Linked DNA regions of Homo sapiens. The protein of the gene in region 1 binds, or shares a complex with, the protein of each later gene. Each region holds a gene or a part of one and is shown in the gene's direction. Other genes may lie near its edges.

What was found.
Region 2: the proteins of CUL3 (region 1) and KCTD5 are in contact, whole or in part, in a cryo-EM structure (PDB 8U83), measured with the Homo sapiens proteins. Residues at the interface, in NP_003581.1 of Homo sapiens: Thr24, Met25, Asp26, Glu27, Lys28, Tyr29, Val30, Asn31, Ser32, Ile33, Trp34, Asp35, Leu36, Leu37, Asn39, Ala40, Glu43, Asn48, Ser50, Leu52, Ser53, Glu55, Glu56, Leu57, Arg59, Asn60, Ala61, Tyr62, Thr63, Met64; in NP_061865.1 of Homo sapiens: Trp45 (codon at 5,026), Phe55 (codon at 5,056), Leu56 (codon at 5,059), Thr58 (codon at 5,065), Thr61 (codon at 5,074), Arg64 (codon at 5,083), Asp65 (codon at 5,086), Lys67 (codon at 5,092), Ser68 (codon at 5,095), Pro96, Thr97, Tyr98, Phe99, Gly100, Pro101, Leu103, Asn104, Tyr105, Leu106, Arg107, His108, Gly109, Lys110, Leu111, Val112, Ile113, Asn114, Lys115, Leu117, Val122.
Region 3: CUL3 (region 1) and KLHL21 share a complex: the UniProt entries of both Homo sapiens proteins name them as parts of the BCR(KLHL21) E3 ubiquitin ligase complex.

The regions. Positions count from the first base shown.
Region 1 is NC_000002.12:224,582,230-224,589,481, reverse strand, and holds the start of CUL3 (cullin-3), read left to right. Parts: upstream 1-4,118; 5' UTR 4,119-4,472; coding exon 4,473-4,538; intron 4,539-7,252. UniProt on the Homo sapiens protein: Core component of multiple cullin-RING-based BCR (BTB-CUL3-RBX1) E3 ubiquitin-protein ligase complexes which mediate the ubiquitination and subsequent proteasomal degradation of target proteins.
Region 2 is NC_000016.10:2,677,656-2,685,522, forward strand, and holds the start of KCTD5 (BTB/POZ domain-containing protein KCTD5), read left to right. Parts: upstream 1-4,867; 5' UTR 4,868-4,893; coding exon 4,894-5,145; intron 5,146-7,867. UniProt on the Homo sapiens protein: Its interaction with CUL3 suggests that it may act as a substrate adapter in some E3 ligase complex. Does not affect the function of Kv channel Kv2.1/KCNB1, Kv1.2/KCNA2, Kv4.2/KCND2 and Kv3.4/KCNC4.
Region 3 is NC_000001.11:6,590,224-6,592,869, reverse strand, and holds the end of KLHL21 (kelch-like protein 21), read left to right. Parts: 3' UTR 1-2,146; downstream 2,147-2,646. UniProt on the Homo sapiens protein: Substrate-specific adapter of a BCR (BTB-CUL3-RBX1) E3 ubiquitin-protein ligase complex required for efficient chromosome alignment and cytokinesis.

The DNA.
Region 1 (7,252 bases):
CTAGAGGTTTCTTGATACATTTACTGTTACAATGGTATTAATAAGAAGAAATTCTTTTTCTTTGAAATAAGATTACATAGAAGCCATGCCTATATTTTTAAATTGAGAATCTATATTATGTTCAATTGGGTTAGTTGGTTGTATAGATATTTTTATTTACAAAATGTTAATTTATTGGGTACATGTGGAATAAACAGACTGTCCAAGCCAACCAGAACATTTCCAGAGCTGCCAGGGAGATGATTTTCTTTTGTATGACCATATGATGAAATACTGAGATGGATTTTTATGATATAATCAGACATTTAACATTTTTTAGTTTAAGATGTAACGTCTCATATGCTTATGTGTCTCATATGCTTCTTGTCTCAATAATATAAGAAAAATTTTAAGGACACAGTAGAAAAGTTGCATGGAGAAGGCCTACAGTTTTCACATATTTAAGCATCTGTGGTTATGTTCTCAATGGGGTATTTGCCGACAATGTCATCTTATAATGCACATACACATGCTACTACCCTAAATATATACAACTCCATATCTAATGGCCTATAATACTTATTAGTTGCCTGGTAGAGACAAGAAAGTAGAAGATCTAGCCCTTCCATTCCAAGAGCTGATAATATCTATACATCTTTGCCTTCCAACTTAAAAACATTTTCTCTCTCTTAACATAGTCTTGGTCTACTCAAAACCATTGAACGGGTCTTTCAAATTGAAATTGTAGGCTTTGAGCTGTTTTAACAACCAATATCTGTACAATAAAATCAGCAGATCTGAAACATTGATTAAAGTGACTTGGTATCCCGAGTACCTAGAAACTGATGGTCAAGAAGAGGCTATTACTTCCTTTTACCAGCTCCTCACATCTTATATTGCTCTTTCACAGACTGGGATGTAGAAAAGGGGCTGGCCCACCCAACTGCCTGATCTCTCTGAATGCATGTGCTCCATATGCATAAATGGAAAGAATAAATGGAAATGAGGCCACTGTTTTCCTGTGTCAGGACACTGTCAGCATGAGTAGGAATACCAATCGCCAGCCATGCAAGATCTAGTGAGTTCCTATTCCAGTGCTGCTTTCTCTGCTAGATCAGGTGGCAGTTTGCAGAAAAGCAACATCCTGAAAGTTTATTTGCTATTTGCAAGTCAGGGAATATGACTGGGCACAGAAAAATAATCTACTGCTGCTTCAGAAAGTATTTCATAGACATTCTGAGGATGTTGCTTCCACAGGAAGGAAAATATCTGATTTCAGAACTGAAGCATATACAAAGTTGGGGCCAAATCCAATATGGGTCTGTGGTTTACAAACTGTGAGATGTGAAAAAGGATGTGATGGCAGGTCCCATCTGTCTCATTCACCCTAGTTCCTGACATACAGTAGCCATTCAATAATAATTATTGAATAAATGAATAACTGAACAAATAAATGAGCAGACTTCTTAATGACAAAATCATTTTGAAGCATTTTTCTGATCCTTGGTGGTTAAAAGCTTAAGGGAAGACACAGTTCACAGTGATGCTTTTAGACGCAGCTAAATTTTGGTTAAGCAACACCAATATACGAAAATCTGGGTTCACAAAGCAAATACATTACAGTTACTATACTTACTATATGCTTTACAATTAAGTAGAAACATACCTTAATGTAGTGGGTTTCTAAATGCTGGCCCATGATGTCTCCTTAGGTTCACAGTGAAATAAGAAAAATTCGTGTGACGTATTGTTCATTACGAGGCTGTTCAATTCAAGGAACTGTCCTTTATTCAAAAATGGATCTTCCCTCATTTCTGAGGTTAAAATACTTTTTAATAAATGATGGGAATAATCTATGCTAGTTGTTCCTTTTTAATACCCTTGCCAATATAAAGTTGCCAAATCTATAATGACTCCCTAGCTTATCAGAAAATATTTTATTAGTCTGAGAGATCCAAATGTCGGAGACTGGCTTAGTTTCAAAATATGACTCATTTTATAAAAGCATACAAGTGTTTTTTGTTGTTGTTGTTTAGAAACCTACCTATTGAATAAAGGAAGTAGTATAACCTTGGCTTTAATGCCCATGTTAATAACAGCCAACAGGTGGTAAGTTGCTGCTCCATGCCCAGTTCTCAGGGCTCTTTAAAACGTATTCATCTATTTAAATTTCACGGTAGCCCAAGGAGGAAGTATTGTTATTGTCTCCCTTTTACAGATGAGAAATTCTGGGGATTGTCAACTCCATGCCCCAAAAGATGCAAAACACAGCTAGTAAAGTGGCAGAATTGAGATTCAAACAATGGCTCCAAGAACACATATTCTTTTTTAAAATATTTTTTTATTTCTTTTTTTGGTTCCTCAGAGATCCCTATTCTGAACATATATTCTTACATTACAAAGAAACTGGGCCATATGAGAGTACAACCAAGAGAAAAACATTGTTTGTTATTATATTATGTTATGGAAATGGAGGTTCAATTAGCATAGAGATTATAAACTCCTATTCAAGGCTGACATTATCTTACATTGAAGTCAGAGCCTCTCCCAATCTTAGTTTATCAACTCAGTTCTTGATAACCTATTTTTAGCTTCAGTATTTACAGATATTGTCTTAAGCAACATTCTTGTTTCTTAAGCTCCTGCTTTAATTAGCCAATACCAAAAAACTCCCACAAAAAAAAAAAAAAAACAAGAAAATATGGTATTTGCAGTGGGGCGTTTTAAGCAAGAAGGGGCTTTAAGCACAACACTCATAAGCTTAGTCATCAGGATTAAGTTAATTTAGGGCAAATTCAACCTTACAGTCAACAAATAAGTGTATTTCACTTTATATTGTTTGCTATTTAAAAGTATTAAAATTCCAGCTTCTAAATGTAGATATCCATCCCCCAAACATATGCTTCTTTAAAATAGGAAGAACACAAACTTTAATAAGAACTCACGTATTCCCTTGCAGAGTCAGAAACCCAAACATAACAGCAATTGGGCAAGTAGGTAAATGAGGAAGTACAATTCATAACAAATGGACAGCAAAACCGATAAGTCAAATTAGACATTTTGACTATAAAGCGACCAAACGCCTCTCCTCCAAAACCAAAAGCCAAAACCTTTTCAAATATACAGCAACTGAATCAGACGGTAATTTTGGCTTTAAAAATCTACAATACTCTTGGTAATGGTAGAAATGATTTATCCGGTAGGTTAAAGATAGGTTTCTATCATTCCACTTAACATTATTTACCAAATGCTGCATTTCATTAATGGAGCTGTCAGTTTATTCTGATGGTAATGAAAAACAGGTTTTAACATGAATAAGCCCTGGGTCCACCAGAAAATATCAGTGAATCAAGAGGTCCCGAAGCTTATGCAGTTTAAGGGAACTTCGTAGATTAAATTTCCACCTTCCAGTCCTGAGAGCTGTGGTGTGCACACCCAGTCCGAATACCTTGTTGAGCATACAGGACACTAATTTCCGACACTGCAGCTAACTCCTGCACAAACTCTTCAAGTTGCAGGCTTCTACTCAAGTACCCATCCCTAGTCCACATGCCCTAGAAAAACACAGGAACCAGTTCGGGACGTAGTTACACATCTAGCACCCCACGCTCCTCCTCAAGACTATCCTCCTGCTGTCCCAGCCCAGTGGGGCCCAGCCCACTACCATCCCGCTCCCGCTCTCCGAACTTCCCCCCTCCCACTCCCCACCATGTGACCAGGACCCTCCCAACCGCCGCTCCGAGCTCCACCAATCAGCAACCACCTCCACCCAGAACCCGGGACCTGGCGCTCCACTTTCAAAAAGGCAGCTTAATCCTCCCGCCCTCAGCCACGCCCCCTTTCCGCTTCCCCGCCCCGCCGGCCCCTCCCACTTCCTTCAGTTCCCTGTTCCCCTCCTCCCCTCCGGTGGCGCCCACCCTCTCCCGGGCTTCGCCCCGCCCACCAGGGGGGCAGCGCGCTCGCCCTCTTCTCGCGAGATCTGAGCGTCCCCCGCGGCGGCCGCCGGGCTCCCCCTCCCGTCCTCCCACCTCCCTCCCCCGGCATCTCTCACTCTCCGGCTCTCCTCCCTCCCTCCTCCCCCCTCCACCCTCTGGGCCGGATCTCGTCTCGCTCAGGCGGAGGAGGAGAAGGAGGAGGAGGAGGACGACGTTCGGCCTGCGCAGTGAGATGTTTGTCCGTCGCCGCCGCCGCCGCCATCGCGGAGGAGCGCGATAAAGGGAGCCGAGCCGGACGTGAGGGGGACCCCGCGGAGCCGCCGCGCCAGCGCAGCCCCCCAGCCGCATCGGAGTCGCCAGAGTCCGAGCCGCCGCCGCCGCCGCCGCCGCCCCCGCCGCCGCCGCGGCTGCCCAGGGGCCGGCCAGCTCCCCAGCCCTGCCCGGGGGTCGCGCCGCCGCCGCCCCCAGCGTCGCCCCTAGCCTGCCTGCCCGCCTTAAATGTGACACCGGCGTCGCGGAGCGCGACCTGAAGCCGCCGCCGGGGAGGGGACGAGCACCATGTCGAATCTGAGCAAAGGCACGGGCAGCCGGAAGGACACCAAGATGCGGATCCGGGCCTTTCCGGTGAGTCTCTCCTCGGCGTCCGGGACCCCGGGGCCGGGGGCCGGGCCGAGAGCCGCACGCGAGGCCCGGGCTGAAGTCCCCCAACAGGCCGCAGGCCCGGCCTCCCCTCCCCCACGCCCGCCGGCCGCGGGGCGCGAGCCTTCCCGGCAACCGGGCGGCGCGGGGCCCCGGCGCGGCCGCCCTCCCGGGCCGTTCCCCGCGCCGGGAGCCCGGGCCTGGCGCCGCGCCCCCGTCCGGGAGCTGCTCCTTCAGCCGCTCCGCGGGCGTCGGCTGCGGCCGGGGCCCCTCGGCCGCCCCACGCCTCCCCACGTTGCCGGGGTTGTAGGCCCAGTCTCCGGCGCTGCTAGCAGCCGCGGAGTCCTCCCTGTGTGGGGCGTGTGTGGAACTTTTCACGTGGGGTTTCGCTACACTTTGAAAATTTACCCAGCCTAGCTTTTAGGGTGATGAAGGGGCTGCCCTCTCTCTCTGCCCCCCTCCCCAGGAAGGTCTATGCCATCAACCTGCCCCCGACGCAGTGACAGTGGTTCCACGGAATGCTCCGTGGTCATAAACTAGTAACATTGGGTGTATTTATAGCGTCTTTCATCCTACAAGCTTCCTAAGCACTTTACAAACTCTTGTGCAGGATTGCCTCGCCACTCGGAGGAAGGCCGGGTGGGGGGGAAGCAACAGAGAGCAAACCGGCCAATTGGTTCTCCATTTCTCAGCCTTGGGAGCCCAAAGAATGAGTGTAGTCGCCTTGCGGAGTAGCTTTGTTTCATCGCTTTCAGTGACAGCAAACGTGTTCTGCTCAGAAACTTTTTCTTTTTTGGCATTACGTTGAGTCGTACCCTTGCGATGTTTAGTATATAGGATATAACTTTGGGTGTCAAATCTGGTTCAGCTTCCCCGTGGCAAGCAATTAAAATGTACTGTTAACGAACTGGGCATACTTGCCTATGTCGCTACAATAAAAGGCATACGTCAAGACAGACGAACTAGCAATCGGACAGAAGATTTTAAAAAGTAAAATTAGAGAAAGATCTTGGTCTTCCCTTCTTAGATTCATAAATACTTCATATGATGTACCAGCGAAAGAGGGGGATTTGTTGTCACTTTTTAAAGCATGCTTTTCCTGAAGCGCAGTTGCAGTGAGGAAAGACTTACCTTGATGTGATTGCCCCAGTTGAGTCAAGTGATTTAGTTTCAGAGAACATGAGGACCTCTCTGAATTCCTAAAATTTAAAAGGATACACCTCATGCAGAATTCTGAAATTGTAAGAACATAAATACTAAAGTCAGTGTGCGAAAACCTCTGCTTTGTGTAAATAGGTACGATGGAATTTAGGAGAATAAGTGTTTTGATAATAATTAAAGATTTTTTGAATGTTTCAAACTTTTTTCTAAGTAAACGTGAGAAATGTTGACAAGCGAGTACTAACGAAGCTTACTAGTATGTTTTCCCTTATAATTGGGCAGAGCTGGGTTATGCATTTGTGAGTGATATTAATTTTCCTACTAAATTCTGACCACTTTAGAGTTTAGAATTACTTAGAATTTTATGAAGTTAATAGTTGTATACAACAGATTTTCTTTTTTTTTGAGACAAGAGTTTCGCTCCTGTTGCCCAGGCTGGAGTACAATGGCGTGATCTCAGCTAACCGCAACCTCCGCCTCCTGGGTTAAAAGCCTCCTGAGTAGCTGGGATTACAGGCATGCGCCACCACACCGGGCTAATTTCGTATTTTTAGTAGAGACGAGGTTTCTCCATGTTGGTCAGGCTGGTCTCGAACTCCCGACCTCAGGTGATCACCGACCTCGGCCTCCCAAAGTGCTGGGATTACAGGAGTGAGCCACCGCGCCAGGCCTATATACAACAGATTTTCTAGCAGTGTGTGCAGCCTTACACTACTCAATTCTTGAAGTCTCATGTTCTAAATAAGATTTTTTGCTAAAATGTGGAGTAACTCAAATTTGACATCAACTCACTCAAGTTAATGGCCTTCTGATTGACCAGTTGTACGTTAATGTATGTGTAATTAAACTCTTTGACCTCTTCAGGTTTCCCTGCTCTTACCTGTTTTGCCATCATTTAATTTGTTCAGCAAATACTGAATATTATGTGCCAGGCACTGTTCTGGGGGTCTGTCAGTATAGCTAGAAAGACCAAGATCCCTGCCTTTTGGAGCTAATATTGTTGGGGAGAAGAGGTGGGAGAGAATTTCATTATTCCTTTAGCTGACCAGTATAATAACGTTGTGTGATACGTTACCACATAGTACTGGAACTGAATTTTTTTTTGTTAGCTTCGTTATGATTATGAGCTAATTTGGATCCATTCTGTCTATAACTTTTGCAGGTTTTTCTGAAAACCTTACATGAAGTAAGTGACTAGTTTTGGTATTCAGTAGTTAATAGCTGCTGATTTCTAAAAGAATTTTTCATTACTGTTTAATAAGTATTAATAACATTCCTAAGTGATTCCCATTGGAAAGAACTATTACAGTTTATGGCCCTTTGTTACAGATAGATGTATATCTCAGTGTTAGGGTGTTTCATAGATTTATCTTACTAACCGTGTGCTTATAGACCTTCAAAATTCCTGTCTTCCAGATTGGCAGTCTTGTTCATAACTACAGACTGCGTGAGTTGCTAGTCAAAAGTAGTTAATACCTAGTGTTCCGTAAAGAAAAAATATGGCCGGGCGCAGTGGCTCACGCCTGTGATCCCAGCAC
Region 2 (7,867 bases), on another chromosome or scaffold:
GCCACTGCTCTCCAGCTCCCGTGGGGGAGAGGCAGACATTGCTGCCCACAGACCTGCCTCTGACTCAACTGTGTCCACCCTCCCTGGTCCCTACCCCCAAGTCACAGGTGACTCAGCAGTGACCCTGTGTGCCAGGCCAGATCCAAACTGAGAGGGAAGGTGTCGTTTTTACACTGCTAATGACGAGAGTGGCTCTTTTTAGCTAAGCGAGTACAGACGGGGCCTGGGAGGGGGCAGAGATGTTCCCCAGGCCCTGCCTGTGGTTCCTGCCTGGGCCTTGGCTGCTGCTGTGTGAGAGCTGCATGTGAGCCTGTGACCGTGAGCTGGGGTGAGCTGGGCCGCACCTACCCTGGGGCCCCAGGGAGCAGGACGCTCCGGGGCCCAGCACGTTGCCCTGGGCCTGTGGCCGGAGTCGGAGTCCTCTCTCCTCCTCCTGGCTTTTGGAAAGGCTTGGCTGTGTTGGGGAGTCTCTCTTAGCCCTTTCAGGAATTTCTGTTCAGGCTTCCTCCTCCTCATCAGCTATTTTACCCATCTCAGAACGTATCTCTCAGGGCGTCTGGTTATAGGGAAACAAGTGGAGCAGGGACGTGGCTTTAATTGGAGCACTCGGCTGGGCTGCCTGGGGAGACTCTTCCGTGCGTTCTTCCTCTGGATAGAACCACCACCTCCTGGGCGTCACTGACAAGCTCCATCTTAACCTCCAAAGCCACAGAACTAGGGGCTCAGAGCCAGAGCTGGCAGCCGCCAGCCGAAATGATGCCATTGCCTGAGCTGACAGCCAAGCCCTTCTGTGGGTCACCTTTCTCCTCACCTTGCTCTTCCCTTTTGAAAGGCCCGTGTGTTTTCTTTCCTTACCCTGTGCTTGCTCATGTCTACTCCGGTTTTCTCTACCACATCCTTAGAGCCATCACCTGGCACGCAGGCGCCTTACATTCTACGGTAGAACGTGGGGTACTGTGTGTGCACATAGACACACTTACGTGGAATTACAGTTGTGGGTTTATCCAAGATGAGGAAGATTTCACTTGCTGTTTAATAGACTTGGGGCCATGTGCCTCCCCACACATGGGCAAGGACAGGTGGAATGTCGGGACCACACTGTGCGGCTTCTCGGCACAAAGTGGAGGGAGGCTGTGGTCGCTGCCGGCCTAGGTGTCCCAGGTGCCCCGCCTTTCTCTGGGACACAGTTGGGGGCTGGCTTCTGAGGGATTCCTTTCTCCCCTCTTTGTGTGGCCCCAGCCAGGGCGGTGGGCAGTCCTGGTGTAGAGCACAAGCCTCTCCACCCTAGAGAAATGCCTCTGTACCACGGCTACCATGTGGAACCTTAACTTGCAGAAGGCTTGTTAACAATTGTTTTGAGAGAGATGGCTGGTCATGCCACAGCTGCTGGGGACTCCGCCTACTCCAGCCCTCTTGGGACACACTGTGGGATTTGTGGCCCTTCCCCAGAGGAATTGTGGAGACTGTCCCATGGAACAAACCCTCAGGCACCAGCACAGGGCTCTGGGTGACTCAGTAAAACTAACGTTTGTCTCTGACAAGATCAGCTGTAGGCTCACCGGCCAGAGAAGACCACTGTGAGCATTTTGCCGTATATCCTGCCCTGCCATTTGTTCACTTTTTAAACTAAAATAGGAACATCCGACACACACCGTTTGCATCGTCTTCTCCCTTGATATTTTAAGCATTTTCCCATGTCATGAGTTTCTCAGAAACATGTTTTTAACAATTGTACTATTTAGTCATTGTCCATTTACTATAATTTATCTGACCATTTCCCTACTGTAAAATACTTGACGGTTTCTGATTTTTCCACTATTTAAATAATGCTGTGATGAATATCTTTAAAATCTTCTGATTTCTTACTTTTTTTCCCCTTAGATGCCTGGAAGTGGTATTTTGAGGTGAAAGAGTTTGTTCATTTTGAAGATATTTCTGTCTCTCTCTCGACCTGATGTGTAGACGCTCAGTTCCAGTAGCAGAACCACCTTAGTTGTGTCTTACAGATTCTGAACAAATCGGTTTCTGATAAGCCGTGTGTTCCAAAGAATGTCTGAATAAGACCGCTCTTTATTTAAATGCTAAGAGGATGTCACTACTGCAATCCATTTGTGGCCGATTTTTTCCAAGAGCCAATTTCCTTGTTTTGGTTGCAAGAACCTGGCTCTGCCTGCATGTCAGCTCTCTGCCCTCCCTGCTGCCGTGGCTTTCAAGCGCTTGGCGATATTTTCAGAATCTTGTACTTCATGTCCACAATGGTATTGAATTTGCAACTGCGCAGTCAGCAGAGATAACAAGTGTTGAACTGACCTTGCCACATGCTTAGTGAGTGATCTGTAATTAAGTTTATAGACTCAGAAAGTACATTAGGCCATTTGGAGTCAGTAGCAGAGCAAAGCCTCTACTTGAAAAAAACCACGTAGCTGATTGGGTTTTACAAGAGTGCATTTGTCTCCCCCTTCCACCCCCCCACCTTCAGGTCTTAGTGGTTCACAAGAGCCCAGCAGCCAGGCTGGCTTTTTCATTGTAGGGCGTGGTTGTCCCAGCTGGTGTAGATTTCAGGCCGCCTCCCCCCATCTCCCTGCCCACAGTGTTGCAGATTGCCTGGCTGGCAGCAAGTCCAGACCACCCAAATTTGGTTGGATTCTTCATTTCTCCACTGTAGTTGGGGTCCATTGATTGTGCAGGGGAACGTGCAGGAGGTTTTTCTAGGCACTGCGTTCAGTGCTGCTTCACTCTACCAGAGATTATGGCCAAATTGCACGGAATTTGGTTTCTTGCCCTCTGAAGCCTGAGGGCCCCCCCTTGCCTGGCTGGTTGACAGACCCGGGGTGCTCACTGCTGAGACTTCAGAGATCGCAGCTGCTGTGAGAATACGGTGAAGGTACTATGTTCTGGAAGATGTTGTCATACACTTTTCCCCAGTTATTTTCAAACTTGACATGAGCCTATGTTGACTCACTGGGTGGGGTCCCTTCTTACGCAGCACACGTGGCAAGTGCCTGAATCGGGGCTGGAGGCACTTCAGAGCCTCTGAGGGGCCACCACTTCTGGCCCAAAATTGCAGGGTTGTAGATGAGGCTGCCTGTGGAGAACTGGTGTGAGGAGGAAGCTGTTTCCAACAAAGAGCACTTTCATCTGTTGAGATGGCTGTGGTGAGCAACTGAACGAGCCTACGTGTGTACCTGAATTTTCCCCATAACTCATTTCTTCCATATGAAGAAACACCAAACTATGTACAGAGAACTTTTTACAAAAGGCAGACCTTTTTTAAGCTGTGTAACCCACATAGCCTAACCGTCTGGCAGAATGACTACGAATAGGGGTCATTGTGCTGGTAAAAGCCTCTATTACGACTGTTAAGTTGGATGTTGGCAAAATTAAATTGTTACAGTATTTAGAGCTGCTGTAGCTGTTCCTTCACAACATGAAATAGGATAAATGACTAGTACGTCTTTCAGGTGGGTGGCAGTCAGAACATGCGTAATATTCTCTACCTGGTCTGTAGCTGTAACTGTGATGTACAGACAAAGCAAAAATTAAAAGAACTCATGAAAACAAATAATACAATGGTATTAGGATATACACTTTTGTGTTTTTAATCTTATAGAAGGTTATTTGCTGGCTATTGTTGGCCTCTAGTTCAGCCTGTTATTTAAATTCTTTTTTTTTCTTGAGACGGAGTCTCACTCTGTCGCCCAGGCTAGAGTGCAGTGGCCTGATCTCGGCTAACTGCAACCTCCGCCTCCTGGGTTTAAGCAATTCTCTGCCTCAGCCTCCGAGTAGCTGGGATTACGAGCGCCCACAACCACATCTGGCTAATTTTTTGTATTTTTGGTAGAGACGGAGATTCACCATCTTGGCCAGGCTGATGTTGAACTCCTGACCTCGTGATCCACCCACCTTGGCCTCCCAAAGTGTTGGGATTACAGACATGAGCCACCGCGCCCGGCCTAAATTCTAATATATGAATTATTTGTATTGAATTCATGTTCGGGGCCACGTTGTTATATGTATTGATATACAGCCTTGAATGTGAATAATTACTATATATTTTACAACTTTTTTCTGGCTTTATTACAAAAACTTTCTTTTTTTTTTTTTGAGACAGACTCTCGCCCTATCACCAGGCTGGAGTGCAGTGGCGAGATCTCAGCTCACTGCAACCTCTGCCTCCCGGGTTCACGCCATTCTCCTGCCGCAGCCTCCCGAGTAGCTTGGATTACCGGCGCCCACCACCGCGCCAGGCTAATTTTTGTATTTTCAGTGGAGACCGGGCCTCACCATGTTGGCCAGCGTGGTCTCGATCTCCTGACCGCCTGATCCTCCCGCCTCGGCCTCCCAAAGTGCTGGGATTACAGGCGTGAGCCACCAGGCCCCGCCCTTATTATATAAATTTTCTATTGGGTCAATGATTTAATCATATAATTTAATGAATCTGTTCTTTTTTTCCCCCCAAATATTTGTGCTTTAGGTGTAGTTACCAGATGATGAATTTTCCTCCTATGCTCCGTAGTCTTGTAATAAAAAGCATGTACAGTGTAGACGTTTGCTGGCATGGCTCTTCCTTTGACCAGTTCATGAACTGGAGTCAGGGTGGGGGTGAAGGCTAGGGTCGAGGTCTGGGTCAGGCGCTCGTGCACCGCTCGTGGGAGGTCGAGGCTGATGTCCGCTGCTCCCCATCAGCGTTAGTGCCCAGATCACCCCGTGCTCCGCTCCCGCCGGAAGCGGGCCCAGCCTCCTGCTTTTCGGGACCGGAACTTCCGCCTACCGCGTGACGCCGGGGCGGGCGCTCTACCAGGGCGGACCTGTGGGCGGGACAGAACTCAGAGGACGCTATTAAAAGCCGGACGCTTCCGGTGGAAGGGAGCTGTTGCGGGGCTTGCTGGGATCATGGCGGAGAATCACTGCGAGCTCCTGTCGCCGGCCCGGGGCGGCATCGGGGCGGGGCTGGGGGGCGGCCTGTGCCGCCGCTGCAGCGCTGGGCTCGGCGCCCTGGCCCAGCGCCCTGGCAGCGTGTCCAAGTGGGTCCGACTCAACGTCGGCGGCACCTACTTCCTCACCACTCGGCAGACCCTGTGCCGGGACCCGAAATCCTTCCTGTACCGCTTATGCCAGGCCGATCCCGACCTGGACTCAGACAAGGTGAGGGCCTCACGGGCCAGCCCGGAGGGTCCTGGCCTTCCCGGCCTGCGGCTCCTGCACACGCCCTGCTTCGTGCGGAGGAGACTTCAGCGGGAGCGGGCGACTCTCCTCGGGCTTCGAGCCCCGCGCTCCCTTGTCGCCAGCTCCTCCCCAGCTTGCCCCGATCCCCTACCCTGGGAGGGGAGGGTGAGGATGGCGCCCTGGCGTCCACTGCCTTTGAGGATCCTGAGTCGATTCACCTTGGGGGTGTCTCTTCCTCGCCCTCTTTGCTCTTTGGTGGAGGAGGCTTCCTAGACCCCGGACTTTGCTGTGATTCTACTTTCTTTTTCTCACTAGGTTCTTTTGCCCAGGGTGTGTGAACGCCTTCTCTTCTCTGTCCCAGGGTACTTGCTGGCTCTGGAAACAGAACCCTTGGCGTTGTTTCACATTCTGGACGTTTGAATTAACGCTGACGTGGGGGTTGATATGGGCGGCCCTTTTTTTCCCTGGTGACTTGCATTTAGAGAGTTGGCGCTCCATCCTTTCCATCCACAGCACGCAGCACCCACTCAGCACCTCTTAGAAGATGCGTCCGTAGTATATAGTATGATTTTTCGAAGGGGATTTTGCTCATATTAAGGGTTGCTTTAGGGATGTCCAGGAAGGGTCAGGTAAGGAATCTTTCAATCTGCTTTCTAATTGGCTTAGTTTTCCCACTGTCTTCGCAAAAGGACAGGAATTTCCAGGTTAGTTTGCAGCTTGTCTTTCATCAAGCGAAATGCTCATGCTGTTGGGTAGATGGTAATAGAAACCTTTTGCTACCTTTATTTATCAAGAGTTGTGGAGCCGAGGAACCGTGTCTTGGGAGTTGTGCAGGATTGAAACTCACAAAAAAGCCTGTTTGAAGAAGTTGTTACCTATATTTATTCAAGGCAGTTCACAAGCCTTATACTAACTTTGCGGGGTCTTTCAGTTGAGCTTACATGACTGCGCTTGGCTTTGTGCCTTGGCAGCCAACATTTGCCATGCAGGAGGCTTCCCAGAAAGGTTCGGATCCCTCTTCAAGTTTGAGAAGCCTGACTGAGACCATTCTCAGCATGGCATGACCGTGATCAGGAAGTGAGAATCTGGAGTTACTGCTAAGGCAGCCTTGTGGGTGGAAATGAGGGTTTGAGATGCCAACCCTCCTGTGCCTCCCCACAACTTCCAACTGTTTCCATTGCTCATTTGACCAAGCCCTCTACTCAGAGAATTGACCTCCCAGGAAATGACAGTCATCCCCAGGATAGAAATAGGCGTTTGTTAGCTGTGATTTTCCTTTTATAAGTGTGGGTGTATGTTTTACTGTTTGGTTTTTCTTTTTAAATAACAGGGCTTAGTGGTCACTCCCTTGCCTTTCTACTCAAGCATTCCTGTTTTGTATATGAAATTAGAGTTTAAATTGCTCTTGTCCATTGGGTTCTTTGAGGCAATGGTTGTCTATTCAGCACTGGAGCACTTGATTCCCAGTTGATGAACTTTAGCACAGTTAAGGTGGTTGATCCCTTTGCTTTACTGTTCCTTAAGACTTTGTTAAAAATTATGGGCCAGGCGCGGTGGCTCATGCCTGTAATCCCAACACTTTGGGAGGCCCAGGCAGGTGGATCTCGTTCAAAACCAACCGGGCCAATATGGTGATGCCCGGTCTCTACTAAAAATACAAAAAGGTGGGCGCGGTGGCTCACGTCTGTAATCCCAGCACTTTGGGAGGCCGAGGCAGGCGGATCACGAGGTCAGGAGATCGAGACCATCCTGGCTAACATGATGAAACTCTGTCTCTACTAAAAATACAAAAAATGAGCCAGGCGCGGTGGCGAGCACCTGTAGTCCCAGCTACTAGGCAGTCTGAGGCAGGAGAATGGCGTGAGCCTGGGAGGAGGAGCTTGCAGTGAGCCTAGTTAGCGCCACTGCAGTCCAGCCTGGGTGAAAGAGCAAGACTCCATCACAAAAAAAAAAAAATAAAAAAAAAATAAGCCAGGTGTGGTGGCGCGTGCCTGTAGTCCCAGCTACTCTGGAGGCTGAGGCAGAAGAATCGCTTGAACCTGGGAGGTGGAGCTTGCAGTGAGTCAAGATCACGCCACTGCACTCTAGCTTGGATGACAGAGGAAGACTCTGTCTCAAACAAACAAAAAAATGCTTTACTGTAGGAATCAATTCTTTGAGCGAGGGGTAATTAATCTTTCTGAATATATCTGTGTTATACTTGCTCTTTTCATCATCATCCATTTAACCAGGTTTGATTTCCAAATGGTAAACTCAAATTCAGAACATGAAGGTAAAGTAGCAGATACAGTCGTCTCTGTCTCATACAATAATTGGAGTAGGGGCCGGGCAAGGTGGCTCACGCCTGTAATCCCAGCACTTTGGGAGGCCGAGGCGCGTGAATCACCTGAGGTCAGGAGTTTGAGAGCAGCCTGGCCAGCATGGCAAAACCCCGTCTCTACTAAAAATACAAAAAAATTAGCTGGGCATGGTGGCGCGTGCCTGTACTCCCAGCTACTCGGGAGGCTGAGGCAGGAGAACCACTTGAACCGAGAGGCAGAGGTTACAGTGGGCTGAGGTTGCGCCACTGCACTCCAGCATGGGCGACAGATCGAGACTCTGTCTCAAAAAAAAAGAAAAAAGAAAAGGAGAAAACAATAATTGGAGTAAATAAGGTTAGTTTTAGTGACAGATAGTTTGCCAAAAGTGTAGTGCTAATTCA
Region 3 (2,646 bases), on another chromosome or scaffold:
AGCTCCTGGCCCCTGCCAGGGGCTTACATCAAAACACCTCAGAGGGCTGCCCTCCAGAGGCTGCACCCAGAACAGTGGGACATGAGCAGGGGTGTGGGCTTGGAGGGTGAAGAGGATGTGGTCCTATCAGATGCTGGGCCTCCTCAGCCATAGCCCCCTGCTCCTACCCCCTGACTGGCTCTTGCGTCCTCACCTCTCACCCTCTCCTTCCCGGGAGGCCCTGGGAGGTGATCATTGACACCCAGCCAAGCAGACAGCTGCGGGTGCCCAAGCCCTTGCTGGGCCTGCGCGTGAGGAGTCCCACTGCTTCTAAAGGAAGTCCTGGGCAGGAGGTGGCTTTGGTGGTTGGTTCCAAAGTTGAAAATGCTTGCAGTTTGACCTTAGAAGAAGTGGGAAGAAGAAGGAGCTCTACAGGGTCAGCTTTGTTTGATTTGTCCAGTCTAAGAAGTCCCATTGCCAAAGCTTTCTGCAGGAGGGTGAATGCCGCAGCTTGGCAGCCCCTGGGTTTCTCTTGGAAATGGTCAGTTTCCCCTCAAAGTACCCAAAGTAGCCTTGGCTTGAGTTTTTGTCCTTGCCTCCTTTTTAGAGAAGAGGGCATTTAGACTGCATTTTCCTGGTTAAAGAAGGTTAAAGCAAATGTTTATTGCCTTTTCTAGTGAACTAACTCGTAGAGATGTTCTCAGCAGGAAGACAGTCTTAGCACTGTCACTTAGCAGATTGCACTTAAGTCCCTTGTGCTGGCCAGATGGCGTGGCTGGTTGCCTTAATATGTCCCAGGACCCCTGACAGGGCTGCCTGGCCTCTCCCTCGTGCTCCTCAAGAGCCCAGTCCATACACTGTGGATGTCATTGCTGTCGGGTTAGGAAGTCTTGTCCTAGAACGCCCTGGCTGGTATGACCACAGTTCATGGCGGCTCTTCTCGCTTGGGTCATGGTCATCTTCCAGCACCTGCTGTGCTGGGAAGGCCGAGGATGGGGGCCCAGCACTGTCCAGGCCTGCTGGGGCCTGGCTGGGAGTCCTGTGGGCAGCATGGAACATGCAGCTGGGCTTCCTGTGACCAGGCACCCTCTGGCACTGTTGCTTGCCCTGTGCCCTGGACCTTTTCCTGCCCTTCTCCTTCCTCTGCTCCCTTGGGGCTACCCCTTGGCCCCTCCTGGTCTGTGCAAACTCCCTCAGGGAGCCCCCCTGCCCTGTAGCTCTCGCTTAACTTCCTAGGGGCTGCTGAGCCCACCCAGAGGTTGTTGGAGTTCAGCGGGGCAGCTTGTCTCCCTTGTCAGCAGGGGCGTAAGGGCTGGGTTTGGCCATACAAGGTTGGCTACGCCCTCAATCCCTGACCGTTCCAGGCACTGAGCTGGGCACCCACGGAAGGACATGCTGTCCAGACTGTGATGACTGCCAGCACAGGGCATCTCGGGCTTGGCTGGTCTGCGAGGCCTTGCCCCTGTGGAACTCTGGGTTCCTGTTTTCTCAGTCTTTTTTGCGGCTTTGCTGTGGTTGGCAGCTGCCGTACTCCAGGCTTGTGTCGGCCACTCAGATGAGGGCTGTGGTGCGAGCCAGTGCAGGAGAGCTGCGCTTGGGATTGTGCCCTCTCCTGTGTCTGTCCTCCGGACCTACCCAGGTCTCCACCATCAGGACCCTGTCTTTGGGTTTAGAAGACCAAGTATGGGGAAAACCAGGCACCAGCCTCTGCAGCAATGGGTCCCTCTAGCCTGTGGACACCAGCTGGGGGATCCAGGGTCAGGCCCCCTCCTCTCCCCAGTTTCCCTCTGCTGTGGGTTCTGGGCTGTCATGTCTCCACCACTTAAGGATGTCTTTACACTGACTTCAGGATAGATGCTGGGATGCCTGGGCATGGCCACATGTTACATGTACAGAACTTTGTCTACAGCACAAATTAAGTTATATAAACACAGTGACTGGTATTTAATGCTGATCTACTATAAGGTATTCTATATTTATATGACTTCAGAGACGCGTATGTAATAAAGGACGCCCTCCCTCCAGTGTCCACATCCAGTTCACCCCAGAGGGTCGGGCAGGTTGACATATTTATTTTTGTCTATTCTGTAGGCTTCCATGTCCAGAATCCTGCTTAAGGTTTTAGGGTACCTTCAGTACTTTTTGCAATAAAAGTATTTCCTATCCATTTGGAGTCATTGCCTTTGTCCTCCTGCTACTGTCTTCTGGGACTCTTGGGCTGAGGACAGATGTCAGGGGAACAGGCAGCATGGAGCCCAGGGTTCACACTGAGGGTCTTAAACAGCCTTCCAGGCCCTTTCTCATCTCAGATTGTAGCAAGTGATGAAGCGTTGGAAAAGACATGCCCCAGAGGCTGGGTGTGGTGGCTCACACCTGCAATCCCAGTGCTTTGGGAGGCTGAAGAGGGAGGATCACTTGAGCCCAGGGGTTCAAGACCACCCTGAGCAATACGGGAAGACCTTGTCTCCATTTAAAGAGAGAGGCCTGAGAAGTAAATGCTGTGGAACAGATGATGCCCAGGAAACCTGCCTGCTCCAAAGCTGGTCTTTGCCTGTTGGTCCTCTGCCCGGGCCCGGCTCCCACAGCCCTTCTTGAGATTGCGGTACATACAGGTGGTGATGAGACTCCCATCTGCGATGAGATGGCCCTTGGACCTGGGGAGGTGGA